Homo sapiens: one gene and its partner. The protein of the gene in region 2 purifies or fractionates together with the protein of the main gene of each other region. This does not show direct contact. Each region holds a gene or a part of one and is shown on either strand. Other genes may lie near its edges.

The links.
Region 1: the proteins of ERGIC1 (region 2) and HIGD1A fractionate together in Homo sapiens (co-fractionation; one large-scale study listed by BioGRID). This does not show direct contact.

The regions. Positions count from the first base shown.
Region 1 is NC_000003.12:42,797,716-42,801,532, forward strand, and holds part of HIGD1A (HIG1 domain family member 1A, mitochondrial), read right to left. Parts: intron 1-3,817. UniProt on the Homo sapiens protein: Proposed subunit of cytochrome c oxidase (COX, complex IV), which is the terminal component of the mitochondrial respiratory chain that catalyzes the reduction of oxygen to water. May play a role in the assembly of respiratory supercomplexes.
Region 2 is NC_000005.10:172,840,489-172,844,305, reverse strand, and holds part of ERGIC1 (endoplasmic reticulum-Golgi intermediate compartment protein 1), read right to left. Parts: exon of another isoform or gene 3,436-3,817; intron 1-3,435. UniProt on the Homo sapiens protein: Possible role in transport between endoplasmic reticulum and Golgi.

The DNA of each region.
Region 1 (3,817 bases), on a different chromosome or scaffold from region 2:
CACCCCGTCTGAGAAGTGAGGAGCCCCTCCGCCCGGCAGCTGCCCCGTCTGAGAAGTGAGGAGCCTCTCCGCCCAGCAGCCACCCCATCTGGGAAGTGAGGAGCATCTCCGCCCGGCAGCCACCCCGTCCGGGAGGGAGGTGAGGGGGGGTCAGCCCCCCGCCCGGCCAGCCGCCCCATCCGGGAGGGAGGTGGGGGGTCAGCCCCCCGCCCGGCCAGCCGTGCCATCCGGGAGGGAGGTGGGGGGGTCAGCCCCCCGCCCGGCCAGCCGCCCGGTCCGGGAGGTGAGGGGCGCCTCTGCCCGGCCGCCCCTACTGGGAAGTGAGGAGCCCCTCTGCCCGGCCAGCCGCCCCGTCCGGGAGGGAGGTGGGGGGGTCAGCCCTCCGCCCGGCCAGCCGCCCCGTCTGGGAGGTGAGGGGCGCCTCTGCCCGGCCGCCCCTACTGGGAAGTGAGGAGCCCCTCTGCCCGGCCAGCCGCCCCGTCCGGGAGGGAGGTGGGGGGGTCGGCCCCCCGCCCGGCCAGCCGCCCCGTCCGGGAGGGAGGTGGGGGTGTCGGCCCCCCGCCCGGCCAGCCGCCCCGTCCGGGAGGGAGGTGGGGGGGGTCAGCTCCCCTGCCCGGCCAGCCGCCCCGTCCGGGAGGTGAGGGGCGCCTCTGCCCGGCCACCCCTACTGGGAAGTGAGGAGCCCCTCTGCCCGGCCAGCCGCCCCGTCCGCGAGGGAGGTGGGGGGGTCAGCCCCCCGCCCGGCCAGCCGCCCCGTCCGGGAGGGAGGTGGGGGGGGTCAGCCCCCCTGCCCGGCCAGCCGCCCCGTCTGGGAGGTGAGGGGCGCCTCTGCCCGGCCGCCCCTACTGGGAAGTGAGGAGCCCCTCTGGCTGGCCAGCCGCCCCGTCCGGGAGGGAGGTGGGGGGTCAGCCCCCCGACCGGCCAGCCGCCCCGTCCGGGAGGGAGGTGGGGGGGGTCAGCCCCCCGCCCGGCCAGCCGCCCCGCCCGGGAGGTGAGGGGCGCCTCTGCCCGGCCGCCCCTACTGGGAAGTGAGGAGCCCCTCTGCCCGGCCACCACCCCGTCTGGGAGGTGTGCCCAACAGCTCATTGAGAACGGGCCAGGATGACAATGGCGGCTTTGTGGAATAGAAAGGCGGGAAAGGTGGGGAAAAGATTGAGAAATCGGATGGTTGCCGTGTCTGTGTAGAAAGAAGTAGACATGGGAGACTTTTCATTTTGTTCTGCACTAAGAAAAATTCCTCTGCCTTGGGATCCTGTTGATCTGTGACCTTACCCCCAACCCTGTGCTCTCTGAAACATGTGCTGTGTCCACTCAGGGTTAAATGGATTAAGGGCGGTGCAAGATGTGCTTTGTTAAACAGATGCTTGAAGGCAGCATGCTCGTTAAGAGTCATCACCAATCCCTAATCTCAAGTAATCAGGGACACAAACACTGCGGAAGGCCGCAGGGTCCTCTGCCTAGGAAAACCAGAGACCTTTGTTCACTTGTTTATCTGCTGACCTTCCCTCCACTATTGTCCCATGACCCTGCCAAATCCCCCTCTGTGAGAAACACCCAAGAATTATCAATAAAAAAATAAATTAAAAAAAAAAAAAAAAAAAAAAGAATCTTATAACTTCCAGCTGCACGACTCCTAAACCATAATTTCTAATCTGTGGCTAATTCATTAAACCTACAAAGGCAGTCTAGTCCCCAGGCAAGAAGGGGGTTTGTTTTAGGAAAGGGCTGTTACCATCTTTGCTTTATTTTTCTATTTTTGTTTTATGAGACAGGGTCTAGTTGCCACGCAGGCTGGAGCACGATCTCGATCTTTGCTCACCGCAACCTCTGCCTCCGAGGTTTGAGTGATTTGTGCCTTAGCCTAACAGCTGGGATAACAGGTGTGCACCACCATGCCTGGTTTTTTTTTTTTGTATTTTTAGTATAGATGGGGTTTTGCCATGTTGGCCAGCCTGGTCTCAAACTCCTGGCCCCAAGTGATTTGCCCGCCTCAGCCTCCCAAAGTGCTAGGATTATAGACGTGAACCATCATGCCTGGCTCCATCTTTTTTTGGCTAGGTCAGATCTCTTTCACTGTCTCAGTTATAATTTTGCAATGGTGGTTTCAATCACAGTGTAATTAGTTGTCAAAAGCCTAACACAGACAAGGTCTGAATTTAGAGAGAGTGATGTATTTTAGCTAAAGGAGGTTTGGCACGTTTCACAGAGAAACACTTGAGACTGGCTTTGAAGAAACTGCATAAATGGACTGGATAGAGAGATTAAACACTGTATTTATTTTAGGCCAGTATGTTTACTAGTTGCCTTCATATCTAATCATGAACTTCTCGGGCAGGTGCGGTGGCTCATGCCTGTAATCCCAGCACTTTGGGGCACCAAGGTGGGCAATCACTTGAGGTCAGGAGTTCGAAACCAGCCTGGTCAACATGGTGAAACCCCCATCTCTACTAAAAATACAAAAATTAGCTGGGCATAGTGGTGTGCATGCCTGAAATCCCAGCTACTTGGGAAGCTGAGGCAGGAGGATCGCTTGAACCCGGGAGGCAGAGGTTGCAGTGCGCTGAAATTGTGCAACTGCACTCCAGCCTGGGCCACAGAGAGACTCTGTCTCAAATTTTAAAAAATAAAAGAAAAAGAAAAAGAAAAAGAAAAAAAAAACATGACCTTCTCAAAGGGGAAGTTTATCACAAATCCTTTCATTTCCCTTCCCAACCCCACATTCTGACCACATTAAATATTTTTAAGATGCTCTCTATACCTCTAAGCCTTTGCACAAGCTGATTCCTCTACTTGTGAGAGTTTCCCTCCCTTTCCATCCCCTTCAGATACTCTTTCCTAGCTAACTCCTCCCATTTTTTTTTTCAGGTTTGGTTTTTCTTTTTTTACACTGAGTCAGAACATTATTTTAATAGTTACAAAACTTTTTTTTTAACAGAATCAGTATAAAATAGCAGTTGATTTCTCCATAATTATCAGAATTATTTATATTTGAGGTCTTGCCTAAGTGGGGCTGAAATCAACAAAAGGTCTTGGACTACTGGCTCAGAAATCATCCTAGGAAGCCCGCCCTGTTGACATTTGTCATGCTTAGCTCTTATGAGATGACCCGGTCCTTTAAAAAAAAAAAAAGTATCTCCGTTTATTCTGTTTATTTGGAGGTTTGAAGTGAATTCGGCAGCATTCATTAAACTCCTTCCAGCTCCTGTCATTTATCATTCTGACTACATCCATTTCAACTTTGCCTGCTCTGTTCTGAGTTGCTTTAACAATATTAAATCGTCCAAATTCTTTTCTCTCTCTTCTCAGAGGTTTTTTACTACTGCTGAGGTCTGGGCTATATAGTTTTTTATGACTCTGTCCCTACTGGCATGAGCTGCCATCAAAGACTCAAAGTTGTTTACAGGTTTGGCTGGCATCAATCTTCCCTGCAAAGGAAGCTGTTGGAACTGTAGTGTTTAATTAATGTACTAGTCTGTATCAACTGTCCACATCACCTTGAGTAATTCCTGGAACTCGGCGAACTCCTCACAGTTCACACTGCCACTGGGTGCCACCATACTGGACTCAGGTTCACATCTTAATTGACCTCCTCTCAGAAATTTTTGTCTCTTTAAGTTCGTAAGTGCTTTGGTTATGCAGTCCCATAGGACCTTGTACTTTCCTTATAACCCTTATAAGCACCAGTTTGTCTGTTTCTTTTGCTAGAATCCTTCAAGTCAGGGACCAATACCTGCTCTGCTTGTATCCAACTCCACTGCCTGGTGCAATACCCTATATATAATATGTACACTACAAATGTTTCTTGAATACATTTAAA
Region 2 (3,817 bases):
CACAGGGCCTCGCGCTCCAGGTGGCCATGGCCCACATCTTGCCCAATCACCGACTGAGGTACTTGCTGATAGGTAGGGGCGCCTGAGTGTGTGACCCTCTGGCCACTTTCTCCCTTACCACAGACTGGTGTTTGACGTCTATGGCTGTGTGGGTACCACAAAGGGAGAGGGGTCTAACTCTGGGTCTGACCATCTCAGGTGTTCCCATGTGATTGTATCTGTGCCCTGCAAACCCCGGAGGCCCTGGTTTTACCACGTCCACCTACCAGAAGACCCACTACTGCCATCTATCACGGCTCGGTGAGGTGCACAGGACTATGCCGCCAGGAAAGGCAGAGGAGAGGGAAATGTCCTCCCGCCTCCAAGTATACTTGTCTCACATTCCACATGAGCTCATCTCACCCTCACAAAATCCCCGCAAAGAAAGTATGAGCACCCCAATTTGCAGATGAGGAAAACTGAGGCTTGCAGAGGCAAAGTGTCTTGTCCTGGGCCCCACAGCTGGTAAACACTGAGGAAGGGATTTCAATCCAGAGAGTTCTGCCGAATGAGTGCAATGTGAGGGTCAGTTCCAAGGGCACTTCACAGCGTTCCGCAGGGGACCTGTGGTCAGTCCCCAGAGGGGTTTGCAAGGGCGAAGACCATTCAGAAAGGGTGGCCAGGGTTGGACCGCTACATACCACTTTCCCCTGAAGACTTGGAGACTCTTTCTGCACACCATGAACATACTCTTGGACCCAGCAAGACATCAAAACACGCCAAATATCACCAGGGTTTCCCAAAGTTCTTAAAGGATACTTTAGGTAATTCTATATGTTGGTGTGAAAGTGGGAGGGGAGAGAAGATCTAGTGAAGAATAATAAAAATCAGCAAGAAAAATCAGCAAAGCAGGATAGCACCATGTGAGGTGCCAGGCTCTGGGACCCCAGCTCTGCACCTCACCAGCTGTGTCCTGGGCCACTCCCATTCCAGCTCTGTGCCTTGGCTTACCATTTTAAAACTGAATAAAGAAAACATTAACGGAGTGAAAACGCAACTACAGAATGGAAGAAAACATTTGCAAACCATACACCTGATAAGGGGCTAATATCCAGAATATATAAGCAACTCCTTAAACTCAGTGGCAAAAATAAACTTCTATTTTATTTTATTTAATTTTTGAGACGGAGTTTCACTCTGTCACCCAGGCTGGAGTGCAGTGGCACAATCTCGGCTCACTGCAACCTCCGCCTCCCGGAGGTTCAAGCAATTCTCCTGCCTCAGCCTCCCAACTAGCTGGGACTACAGGCGCATACCACCATGCCCAGCTAATTTTTGTATTTTTAGTAGAGATGGGGTTTCTCCATGTTGGCCAGGTTGGTCTCGAACTCCTGACCTCAGGTGATCCACCCACCTTGGCCTCCCAAAGTGCTGGGATTACAGGTGTGAGTCACCATGCCTGGCCAAAAACCCTCCAATTTTAAAAAGCACAAAAAATGTGAATGGATATTTCTCCAAACAAGACATACAAATGGCCAAGATCTTGAAAAGATGCTCAAAATCTCTATTCATCAGGGAAATGCAAATAAAAATCACAATGAAATGGCACCTCATACCTGTTAGGATGGCTATTACCAGAAAAACAAAAGACATGTTGGCAAGATGTGGGGAGAGGGAATGCTTGTACACCGTTGGTGGGGAGGAAAGATAGTGCAGCCACTATGGAAAACAGGAGGAAGATTTCTCAACAAATTAAAAATAGAGCTACCATAGGATCCAGCGGTCCCACTTTGGGGTATTTATCCAAAAGAATTGAAATCAGGATCTCAGAGACATCTGCACTCCCATGCTCACTGCAGCATTATTCATAACTGCCAAGATGTGGAAACAACCTAAATGTCTATTAATGGGTAAATATTGGTATATATACACCTTGAAATATTACTCAGCCTTAAAAAAGGAAATTCTGTCATTTGTGACACCATTGATGAAACTGGTGGACATTACGTTATGTGAAATAAGGCAGACACAGAATGAAGACTGCATGATTCCACTTACATGAAGTATCTAAAATAGGCAAATATGGTGAAACCCCATCTCCACTAAAAATACAAAATTAGCTGGGCTTGATGGTGCATGCCTGTAATCCCAGCTACTTGGGAGGCTGAGGCAGAATTGCTTGAACCTGGGAAGTGGAGGTTGCAGTGAGCCGAGATTGCGCCATTGCACTCCAGCCTGAGCAACAAGAAGGAATCTCCGTCTCAAAAAAGAGGGTGCTCTGATGTTAGGTATTCTTACCACACAAAAAATAACCAAATTAATAGTATGACTATAAAGTGACAGCATGAGATGTGAGGGGTGATAGAGATGGAGCTGTCCTGTATCTGGATGGTGGTGATTACATGATAAACAAGCCTTAACTTTCATAGAAGAGTGCACAAACACACATTAATTTTATCATATGCTAACTTTAAAAATAAAACAAAGAAAATAAATCATGAATCATTGTATCTGTCTGTAAGGCCAGTGTGATTTTATAAGTCCAATGACATGCCTAGCCCAGTGCTCAAGACATTACAAGCTGAAGGGCCGTGAGGTATTGCTAATAAGATGAGCATTACTTCTCCTCCTCCAAAGATATTCAAGACCCAGACCAGAATCTGAGAAAGGAAAGCTAATGCATGGAGGGGCTATCACAACGCCAGTCCCCAGTACATCAGGGACATCCGGGTCCTCTGACTTTACTAACTGTAATTACAGCCAGGCCTCTCATCTCGAATAGGGTTTCCACCTTTTGGAGAAACAGAATGGTTTGTCCATTTCAAGCGGATCTGCCTTCCTGTGTAGCTGTGCTGCCTGGCAGGTGCCAGGAGGAAGGCTAATTGTCAAGGGCATGAGGATTACGCTGTCAGAGGCACCAGCTGTTTCCCAGCATTTCTGAGGGTCGGTTTCCCTGGACATAAAACAGGAAGGATCATGCCCACTCAGAGGGAGAAGAGGTATCTGTAAAGGACCCCACATGTCCCCTGGCTCTTGGCTGTATGGAGAACCCTGAGTTCACCCTGCCTCTCCCGTGGGTCAAGATTTTTTTTAAACAAAGACAGCCAGCGTTGGAGGTTTTTTTCCTGTCCTGTACTTTTCCCACATATACAATCAATGTAATTAAGTTAATAGACCTAAAAGTTAAAGCTGACAACAGACAATTAGGCTAATTGCCACTTCCTTAAAGGATCAATTAGGGCTGTGTTTCCCAAACTGTGTTTTGAGAAATGGCACTAGCTGCTCCATAAACAACAGGGCATCTGAGACTATACATGTGGCAAATGTTGGGCTGAACCAAATAACTCTGGTTCGCTCAGTGCCGGACTCTTCAGAGTCCTCAGTGAGGCAGCCAGTGCGGCATGGAGGGACACAGACTGGAGGACACTGAGTCAAATCAATCATACAGACCAGGGCTTTATACATTTTAATGAATACATGAATCACCTGGGGATCTTGTTAAAATACAAATTCAGATTCCAGGTGGGCACTGAGATTCTCCACTTCCAACAAGCTCCAAGGTGCTGCTGAAGCTGGCATCTGGGACTGCACTTTGAAGAGCAAGGTTATTAGTAGAAAGTTACGGCCCCTTACTGTCCACTTCACTGGTGGGGTAACAGAGTTGCCGAAGGTCATGCAGGAGTGATGGGTGGGACGGGAACTCCACGCCCCAGCCTCCCGAGGCAAGGCTCTCCACCGCCACCCGACCTGGCTCCCCTGCTGCTCTCAGCCCTGCTTGCTATTGCTTCTCCCAATTCAGAGCACTTCTCCTCCGTCTTGGCTGTGCATTAGAATCACA